Linked DNA regions of Homo sapiens: region 2 is linked to region 1. The links come from fine-mapping of genetic effects on gene expression. A gene starts in region 1. The other region holds a variant in brackets. All regions are shown on one strand. Distances are from middle to middle. Region 1 holds the start of ARHGEF37 (Rho guanine nucleotide exchange factor 37). Region 2 overlaps ARHGEF37 (Rho guanine nucleotide exchange factor 37).

The links.
Region 2: its variant is fine-mapped to the expression of ARHGEF37 in whole blood (INTERVAL, PIP 0.97).

The regions. Positions count from the first base shown.
Region 1 is chr5:149,579,307-149,584,686 of GRCh38, reverse strand. ARHGEF37 (Rho guanine nucleotide exchange factor 37) reads right to left here and starts at 3,189. Exons shown (of 13, transcript NM_001001669.3): 1 at 3,063-3,189. RefSeq lists enhancers at 1,012-1,181, 3,399-3,528 and a silencer at 3,139-3,318.
Region 2 is chr5:149,606,517-149,611,896 of GRCh38, reverse strand. It overlaps ARHGEF37 (Rho guanine nucleotide exchange factor 37), which reads right to left. Exons shown (of 13, transcript NM_001001669.3): 4 at 2,202-2,349. It also overlaps the pseudogene RNU6-588P. Among named protein-coding and RNA genes, the nearest start is that of ARHGEF37, 28 kb to the right of the region's middle. RefSeq lists an enhancer at 277-571. The variant C/T (reference allele first, on the strand shown) is at 2,201.

The DNA of each region.
Region 1 (5,380 bases):
TGTAAGCAGAGATCATGCCATTGCACTCCAGCCTGGGCGACAGAGCGAGACTCCATCTCAAGAGAAAAAAAAAAGAAAAAGAAAAGAAACATATAAAGAACAGTTTATAGTCAAAATTAGAAAAAACATCCCAATATTTTAGAAACTACTGTGAAACAAAATAGAGCCACAGAGCCAAAAAGGGAAGGAATTTTCCAAGTCACTGTGCTTACAGAAAAGGACTTCTCTGTGTTGATAAATAAATGATTGGAAGTGAGGCGGAAAGACAGCAACAGACATCCCCTCTCCCATACGCAGACAGACATACACATTCTCTCTCTCTTTCCTGGAGGAAAAACTCCCCTTTATAAATACATGGAAAGGACAGGTGGTATGTGTCTTAACCCAAATCAAACAGCAGCTGTTTGTCCTTAGCCATATTTCCCCAGTTCTATTTGGAAGGCCTAAAAAGGTCTTCCAAAAGAGGAAGGAGACAACACAGTTTTTTTTTAAAGCAGTTATTTTTATAGATAAGTGAGTCTGCCCAGGCTCTGTCATCACAAGTTTGGATCCATAGATTTAAAGTTCTTGAGCCTTCCAGTATTAGGGAATTAAGAAAATAATAACAATTATTAGAATTATAAAATTCTCTGGGCACAGTGGCTCATGCCTGTAATCCCAGCACTTTGGGAGGCTGAGGTGGGAGGATCACTGGCATCCAGGAGTTCATGACCAGCGTGGGCAATATAGCAAGACCCCGTGTCTACAAAAAGTAAAAAATTAGCCAGGTGTGGTGGCATATGCCTGTAGTCCCAGCTACTCAGAAGGCTGAGGCAGGAGGATTGCTTGAACCTGGGCGGTTGAGGCTGCAGTGAGTTGTGACTGCATCACTGCACTCAGCCTGGGTGACAGAGGAGACCCTGTCTCTAAATAAACAAACAAATAAACAAATTCTTCAGCCTATTAATAAACAAGCAATAGGCTTTGGACAGTCAAGCTCTACAAATGCCATTTTGCTTCTGTTACAGCACATGAAAACACATTCCCTACCTCATTAGTTAAATAAAAAGCCATTTATTTGATCTAGGGCAGAATCAGCCAAGGCACTGTTTACCACAGTAATCTGCTGATCCAAGAGGGATGTGAGCCAACTGCCAGCAACTCCTATTCCCTGGCAGAAATTCAGCTGAGGCTCTATTGCTGAATAAGGGTGGGTGCTGCTCAGGTCCCAGTTTATGTCCTCTTTCCTCTCATTTAAAAACAAACTCTATAGGCCAGGCACAGTGGCTCACGCCTGTAATCCCAGCACTTTGGGAGGCCGAGGTAGGCAATTGCCTGAGCTCAGGAGTTTGCAATCAGCCTGGGCAACACGGTGAAACCCCATCTCTACTAAAATACAAAAAATTAACCGGGCATAGTGGCGTGTGCCTGTAGTCCCAGCTACTTGGGAGGCTGAGGCAGGAGAATTGCTTGAACCCGGGAGGCGGAGGTTGCAGTGAACCAAGATTGTGCCATTGCACTCCAGCCTGGGAGACAGCGAGACTTCGTCTAAAACAAACAAACAAAGAAAAAACAACAACAAAAAAACGGGGTGTTGACCCCATTTGAAAGAGGCAAGTGAAGCCCAGTAAACACTCCTTGTTACAGTATCTGGTAGTTTCTACTTTCAGCTTTTGACTTGGAGTCAAATATTGAGGGTAGTACCTTGCTGCACCCTTATTTAGGATACCATCACGAAGGTATGTGGTGTGGTCTGTAAGTCATAATAGGGCTGACTTTATTTTTTCATGTTTATAATTTTTTAAATTGTATTTTATTTCAGATACAGCCCAATTTCTTCCAGGTCATCACCCTTTCCTAATTCCCACAGCTTTGATGATTTTGTGTGTCATCACTTTTTTTTTTAATTAATTAAATTAAATTTTAAACTGTGTACATAATAGATGTACATAGTTTCAGGGTACCTGTGATACTTTAATATATTTATAAAGATCAAATCAGTGTACTTGGGATATCCATCACTTTAAATATTTGTCTTTATGCTAGAACCATTCAAATTATTCTCTTCTAGCTATTTTGAAATATACAATAGATTATTGTAAACTATAGTCACCCTATAATCGTCAGCACTTTTATTGAGCATATATTATGTCAAGCACTAGCCTTTATGTTCATTCTTAAGTCTGACAATAACCTGGAGGATGAAGCAGACACTCTCATCCCCCGTCTACACATAAAACTAGGCCTTGAAAAGGTTAAACTATGCTTCCTGGATCACACAGCTGGCTGTCTGGACGCACAGCAGGTACTCCTCCACCAGCTGCCTCCCTTCAAAGGAGCAAAGAAAGTGCTCTGAAACCACCCTGCCTGAGTAGCAGCCTGCAGGCATTCCTTACAGCAGGAATTCATGTCAAATCTCAAACTGTGCACAAGGCTTTGTGTGAACCCTTCTGCTGGGAGTGGACACAGATCTCTAAGGGGTCAGGGACCCCCAGAAGGTTAAGAACCAGTGCCTGGGCAGGCTGTCTGCTTCCCCACTGTAAGTTTCTGGCGTTCAGAAGCCGGACGTTCTGACTTCTAGTCCCAGCTTTGGCACGACTTTTCTGAGGGACCTTAGCCAAGTCACCTCACCTATGGATCACGGATTTCTGTTCTCTTTTTTCCTGGCCTTGACTGTCTATTCATAATTATATTTTGCTTGGCAAGGATTCTTTACCATTGTTTGTATTTTTCCGTTGTTATAATGTATGCATTCTTTCTAAAAGCTGTCTGAAATCCTGCACGGAAGAAGGCAGAGAGAAACAGGAACAAAGAATAATAATGTTTTTCCAGGCCGGCTAACCTCCCTGGGCCTCAGTTTCCCACCTGTAAAACGACTAGGGTAGGCCATATGGACCAGGTGGCTTACATTCTCATAAGGCTCAAGACACAAAGCTAGCTACCAAGCAAGTTGGGACCCGGGAGGTCGTCGCATCCTGCCTTTCTGTCCCACCTCCCTTTTCTGATCCTCCCAGCAGCTGTTTCCTGCACCCCTCTCCAGCCCCATCCTGCTTGACCAGGCCCCAAACGCCCAGCGGACTCACCCGCGCGCGCAAGGTGCCTGCCGGCGCTCACGCACGGAGGTCGGCCGCCCGGGCAACAGCGCAGCCGGGGCAGGAGGGGCGCGTCGCCCAGCTCCCGGCACCCGCGCCGCTCCGGGTGGCTGTGCCCACCGAGGGCGCTGGCGGGCGCGGCTATGCCCACGCAGCTGCCTGCGTGCGTGCGCCGCGAGGGGGTGGCTGGTCTCCAGCCTTTGTTAATTGTCTTTCTGGAGCCAGGTTGTTTTCTGTTCGCTGCTCCCGGAGTCAGCCCCGGCCGGCTCGGAACCGTGCCCTGGCTGGCAGCCAACCCGAAGGATTGCAGGCGGAGTTTAGCGACGTGCCGGCACCCACCCTCCCGCGGCCTCTCATTAAGCCACCTTCTCCGCGGGCTCGTCATCCAGAAAACAGGAGCCGGCATTTAGGCCACCCGGTGGGAATGCTGACCCCGGTATTACTGGATACCTTTGCTCCTGCCCGAATCACCAAACTGTAGGGCTGGGCCTCAATTTAATTCTTAGTGTTGGCTGCCGAGGAGCCCTTGGTTCTTGCCCCAGCTCTCCTGGGAGCCCTGCACAACCTTAGCCAAGTCGGCCAGTCGCTTCCATGACATGACGGTGTTGGTCCATTCTTTCACTCTACTGGGAGCAAGACACTGTTCTGGGCACAGAGAACACAACAGTTAACACGATAGACAAGGTCCTGGCCTTATTGGGCTCCTGTGCAAGACACTAAACCCACCATTGAAAGTGATAGTTGCTATGAAACGCATGTAAAGTTTCATATCGGGGCAACCAAACCTTGTTTGTAGCGTCAGGAATGGACTAGATTAGCTTTTCTCATTCTGCCACTTCTTTTATTCTTATTTTCATTTTTAGGGCTTAATTTAGGGCTTATTATTTATTATTACTGCTGGTAGTAGTCATATTGCTTACTAAGGGCCAGGCGCTATACTAAATGTTTTACTTGTACTGTCTCAATTATCTCATTCACAATTTCTCTAAGAGATAGGTATCATTATTATTATCCTCATTTTCAAGAGAGAGAAACTTAAGCTACAGAGGTGAAAATAACTTGCCCATGACACACAACTACTAAGTGACAGTGCCAGTATTCGAATTCAGACTATCTGAGGGTTCAGGCTGCTTAACCACCACTCTACACTCAGAAAAACATGAAAACCAGAAAAGTGTCTCCTCTTGAATGTGACAGATGAGGGCAACTGAAGGGGAGAGGGGTGGTATAGCTTGCAGAAGAGAAAAACCAAGGGTGCCGGGCGCGGTGGCTCACGGCTGTAATCCCAGGACTTTGGGAAGCTGAGGGGGGGGCAGATCACGAGGTCAAGAGATCGAGACCATCCTGGCCAACATAGTGAAATCCCATCTCTACCAAAAATAGAAAAATTAGCTGGGCGTGGTGGTGCACACCTGTAATCCCAGCTGCTTGGGAGGCTGAGGCAGGAGAATCACTTGAATCCTGGAGGCGGAGGTTGCAGTGAGCTGAGATCACGCCACTGAACTCCAGCCTGGTGACAGAGCGAGACTCCGTCTCGAAAAAGAAAAGAAAGAAAAAAGAAAAGCAAGGGAAGCTGAGGACTTTTCAAAAAAGTAGCCCTATGGATTAGACCTAACCTGTATGATCTTAGAGGCCACCAGGATGCAGAAAGCTGTAAGGAGATGCATTGCAATTTAAAATGTAAGGAAGAACTTTTCTAACAATTTGAGTATTTCAAAAATAACATCAGTTGGCGGGGCACGGTGGTTCACGCCTGTAATCCCTTTGGCACTTTGGGAGGCCAAGGAGGGTAGATCACTTGAGGTCAGGAGTTCGAGGCCAGCCTGGCCAACATGTTGAAACCCCGTCTCTACTAAAAATACAAAAATTAGCTGGGCATGGTGGTGGGCACCTGTAATCCCAGCTACTCAGGAGACTGAGACAGAAGAATTGCTTGAGCACTGGAGGCAGAGGTTGCAGTGAGCCAAGATTACACCACTGCACTCCAGCCTGGGCGACAGAGTGAGACTCTGTCCCAAAAATAATAATAATAATAATAATAACATCAGTTGCCTGGAGAGCATATCCTGTCACTAAAAGTAAACATTCAAGCAGAGAAGCTTATTAGGGATGCTTCAAAGAAAAGTCTGGTACAAGTTAAAAACTGATTGAGGTGATCTCTAAGGTTCTCTTCAATTTTGATATTTTGTCTATTCTAACCTACTGATAAAGAAACTAAGTGAGTCTTAGAGTGGCTAAGTGGCTTGTCCAAAGTCAGCCGGGAAGTGAAGAGCTGACCCCAAAGCTGAGACTGATTCCTAGATCAGACT
Region 2 (5,380 bases), 27 kb before region 1:
GTTACATATATAGGTAGAAGAGATATATTTATTTATACATATATTTCAGGATATGTCTTAGGATAGTAAATGTATGTAATATTTGTTATAACAAGGGAGCATGGCACTGATAAAATTGAGAACTACAGTGTGGTCTCAGAGAAAATAGAATCCCTGCCTAGCCGAGATAACTATAATACGTGAGATTCATTGAGTGTCACTCGTGTGCAATGAATCAATGCCCCATGCGGGGCTGTTATTCCTCCCACCTTACACATAAGGAAACTAGATCCTGAGACATAAGATGGCTCTCTCATGGCCAGGGGCCAAGCCACATCCACCACCATGGAGCTCGGCTACAGAGCCCATGAGCAAAGCCCAGCTGGCCTGGCTAGGAAAGACCAAAGTGCAGAGGATGTAATAAACAGCAGCCTCTGAGCAAACTAGGGCTCCCACACACAGTGTTTATTAAATGTCTGAGCTAGATGCCAGCACTGAACTCTTGAGAGATGTTACATCTAAGTTTCTGGCGTCTCTTAAAAAAGCAGAGGCTCTGGCCACAACAGACCCTCATTTCTACATGGCAGCTGAGGCAGATGGTTTGCAAAAACATCACTGCTATTATTCCTCCCCCAATCTCTACAAGCCTTTGTCACTATGAAGCTCCTGCTACCAAGAAATGCAGTTTATTTCCCCACCCCTTGAGTATGGGCTGGCCTTAGGACTTCATTTGAATGACAATGTGCCAGTTCCCAGCTAAGACCTCTAGATGCCAAGCCCTCCCCACAGCCCTTAGAACCATGAGACCATGATGTGAATAAGCTAGCAGGCGGGAAGAGGAGAGACCATAGGACCACAGGTGAGGCAGCTCATGTGTCCCAGATACATGAAAAAACCCAGCCAGGATCAGCAAAGCTGACCTGCAGGTGACTGCAGATATTTGAGGGTGCTAATGATTCCAGGAGAACATTTACTGAGTACACCTAAATTGCTAATATGCAGAAGTATGAGCTAAATAAATGTTTGTTTCAAGCCACTACATTTTGGGGGTGATTTGTTATCTAGCAAAAGCCACTTGATAGCAGCAATTAGCTAAGGCTGTCCTGCAGCTGCACGCTACACAGGGTCTGTTGTCTCTAGTGTGCGCAGCCTCCACTTCTCCCTTTTATCTCATCTCTGGCACCTTGCTTCCCTTTATATCTGTAAACTGTAGAAATATATTTTGTGACTCTTGCAGAAGCCTGTTTGTAAGACCCATGAAGGATGAATAAAAAGGGAAAATGAATACAGTTTTTTTGGGAGCAGAGAGGGGCTAGGACACGGGTTCTTGAAAAGGAGACTTTAGGCCTGGCATGGTGGCTCACGCCTGTTGTCCCAGCACTGTAGATATTTTTTACTGTAAAAAATACAGCCAGCCAGATATTTTTTACTGTAAAAATTTTGATGTTTTAAAGTTTTTTAATCTTATAATCACGTTACCCATTCGAAAATTTAAATTCGAATACATATTCTCTACATTTTTCTACCTGAGGCTTCTACCCATTGGTGCTAATTCTAAGCTATGAGTCCACCACGGACTGGTGATACTCTCCCTTTTCCATGTGGCAGGACTTCAGCCACCGGTAGAGAGGGAGCCTCAGGTGATACACACCTGCTTCTTATCACTATGGGAACACATGGGTCCCACCATCTCACTGCCCTTTCCTGTGCTTCTCATGAGCACTGTTCCCAAACGTTTCCGCTTCTCCAACCCTGGACATGTGGTAGGATGGCATGCCCTGCCTCCTGGCTGTTGAATGAAGCTATGATTAGTCCTGGCCAATGAATTACGAGAAGTGATTAATATTATTTCTGGCCCACAGCATTCAATTGCCAGCATTAGACTCTCCAGAGCTCTTTTTACTTAAGCCACAGTTACTGGCAATATTCCAGACAGTGGCTGCTGTGAGTTTGGGTGCCGAAGTGAGGATGACAAAGAGCAGAACCCCAAGTCAGCCTTCAGTGGAGCATAAGGAAGACATAAACCTTTGTTGTTTGAAACCACTGAGATGTGGGAGCTGTTTGTCTCTGTGGCACAGCCTGCCCTATCCTGACTAACACAGGCTCTGACAGAGCAACACTCGTGAAGCAGCACGAATGGCATGAAAAAGGGGTGAGACCATAGCTGCTCCTGAACCGGGTCAGTGGGGTAGGAGCGAGTGCTCACTGGCCGTTCTACTCA[C/T]ACCACCGCCTCAACGATGCCCTGGATGTGCCGCTGCAGCTCCGGCTCCTTCCGGTACGTGTCCACCAGTAGCAAGGCCTGGTCGTAGCTGGCACAGTAGACCTTATAGACTTGCTCCAACTCCTCTTGGAATTCCAGAAATATGTTACCTGAGAGTGAAGACGCAACAAGGGGTCGTCAAGGGCATGTCTGTGTGTCCCCTAGCTTGGAACAGGGAGGCAGTAAGTAAACCCCTCCAGCTCTCCAGTGAGATTGCTGGGTTTACCAGCATGTCACCATGGGCAAATGACCTCATCTTCCTGACTTTCTGTTTTTTTCATCTTTTCACAAGGTTGTTCTGAGGATTGAGTGACAGAATGATATACATCTTAGGCTAGGAAACTGTGAGCACTTACTAAATGGTAGCTATAGTCATACCAGGAATATTAATAATGCTCACATTTGGACAGTGCTTTATAGTACACAAAATACACTCAACCATTAGCTTGTTTTTTTGTTTTTTTGTTTCTTTTGAGATAGAGTCTTGCTCTTGTCCCCCAGGCTGGAGTGTGGTGGCGCAATCTCTACTCACTGCAACCTCTGCCTCCCAGGTTCATGCCATTCTCTGCCTCAGCCTCCTGAGTAGCTGGGATTACAGGCTCATGCTACCATGCCTGGCTAATTTTTGTATGTTTAGTGGAGATGGGGTTTCACCATGTTGGCCAGGCTGGTCTTGAATTCCTGACCTCAGGTGACCCACCCACCTCGGCCTCCCAAAGTGCTGGGATTACAGCTGTGAGCCACCACTCCTGGCCACTCATTTTATCTTTATAATTAAAGATAAAATGTGTGGCAAGCACAACAAATCCCCAATTTACAAAGACATGCTACAGCATAACACAACTGGTTACAGTGTGAGCTTGGATTCCAGGGAACTAGGGACAGATCTCCAGCAACCCTTCCCCAGTTGTGTAACCTGAGGCAAGTGTTTCACTCCTCTAGCTCTCTATTTTCTCATCTATGGAATGCAAATAGAAACAGTACTTACTGCCGGGTGTGGTGGGTCACGCCTATAATCCCAGCACTTTGCAGGCCAAGACGGGTGGATCACGAGGTCAGGAGTTCCAGACCAGCCTGGCTAACATGGTAAAACCCTGCCTTTACTAAAAATACAAAAATTAGCCGGGTGTGATGGTGTGCCCTTGTAGTCCCAGCTACTCTTGGGAGGCTGAGGGAGGAGAATTGCTTGAACCTGGGAGGCGGAGGTTGCAGTGAGCTGAGATCGCGCCACTGCACTCCAGCCTGCACAACAGAGCAAGACACCATCTCAAAAAAAAAAAAATTTGTTTGCATATTTGTTATTTTTAATCGCCATCCTCATATGTCATATTACATATGTAATATATTTATTATATATGTCATATTACATATGTAATATATTTATTATATATGTCAGGCCTCTGAGCACAAGCTAAGCCATCATATCCCCAGTGACCTGCACGTATACATCCAGATGGCCTGAAGCAACTGAAGATCCACAGAAGTGAAAATAGCTTAACTGATGACATTCCACCATTGTGATTTGTTTCTGCCCCACCCTAACTGATCAATGTTTTTTATAATCTCCCCCATCCTTAAGAGGTTTCTTTAGGCCGGGCCCGGTGGCTCATGCCTGTAATCCCAGCACTGTGGGAGGCCCAGATGGGTGGATCACAAGATCAGGAGATTGAGACCATCCTGGCTAACACAATGAAATCCCGTCTCTACTAAAAATACAAAAAAAATTTGCCAGGCATGGTGGCGGGCACCTGTAGTCCCAGCTACTCGGGAGGCTGAGGCAGGAGAATGGCGTGAACCCAGGAGGCGGAGCTTGCAGTAAGCTGAGATCGTGCCACTGCACTCACTCCAGCCTGGGTGACAGAGCAAGACTCCATCTCAAAAAAAAAAAAAAAAAAAAAAAAAGAAGTTTCTTTATAATTCTCCCCACCGTTGAGAATGTACTTTGTGAGATCCACCCCCTGCCCCCAAAACATTGCTCTTAACTCCACCGCCTATCCCAAAACCTGTAAGAACCAATGATAATCCCACCACCCTTTGCTGACTCCTTTTTCGGACTCAGCCCGCCTGCACCCAGGTGAAATAAAGAGCCTTGTTGCTCACACAAATCCTGTTTGGTGGTCTCTTCACATGGATGCGTGAGACAATACACATATGATAAGTGCCATGAATTAAAACGGAGCCAAATAAAGAGTTAGAAAATGGTGGGGGATGTACTTGGGGAAGGCCTTTCGCAAGATGTGAATGTCTACCAGAGAGGCAGAGGTAACTAGTCCTGGGAACAAGCAAGGGAAGAGCAGCACCAAGTATTAGGGAAGGACACCTGCAGAGGCCCTGAGGCAGGACAGTGCTGGCCACAAGGGCAACAGCAAGAAGGCAAGTGTGGCTGGAGTAGGTGAACAAGGGCATAAAGTAGAGGAAATAAATCTCCAGGTGGATGGTGTCAAAAAATAAAACAGGTTGGGTGCTATGGCTCATGCCTGAAATCCCAGCATTCTGGGAGGCCAAGGCGGGTGGATCACTTGAGGCCAGGAGTTTGAGACCAGCCTGGCCAACATAGCGAAACCCCGTCTCTACTAAAAAAATACAAAAATTAGCCAGGAGTGGTGGCAGGTGCCTCAGGAGGCTGAGGCAGGAGAACTGCTTGAACCCTGGAGGCAGAGGTAGCAGTGAGCTGAGATTGCACCACTGCACTCCAGCCTGGGCGACAGAGCAAGACTGTCTCAAAAAATCAATTAATTAAAAAATAAAAATAAAGTAGAGGAAATAAGCAGGAAACAGAAGCCAGATCATGTAGGGTCTTAAAGTAAGTGGAGTGCAGTAAGGGATTCAGGTTTTATTCTGATGGTTGCAGGAAGCAACTGGAGGCCTTTGAGCAACGGTGACATGATCTGATTTCTGCTTAAAAGGATCACACTGGTGCTCAATTTTAGCATCATATACGCTAAAGTTGGAACAATATAGAGATTAGCATGGCGCCTCTGCAAAAATGACATGCAAATTTGCGAAGCGTTCCATACTTTCAAATCAGAAACTAATGAGATTAGTTACCTACAGAGGGTGGACGGACTTGAGAGGAAGTGGTGAGGGTGAAGAAAAATATATTAACCACAAGAAGGCAGGTGGGGAACCAGGGACCACAGG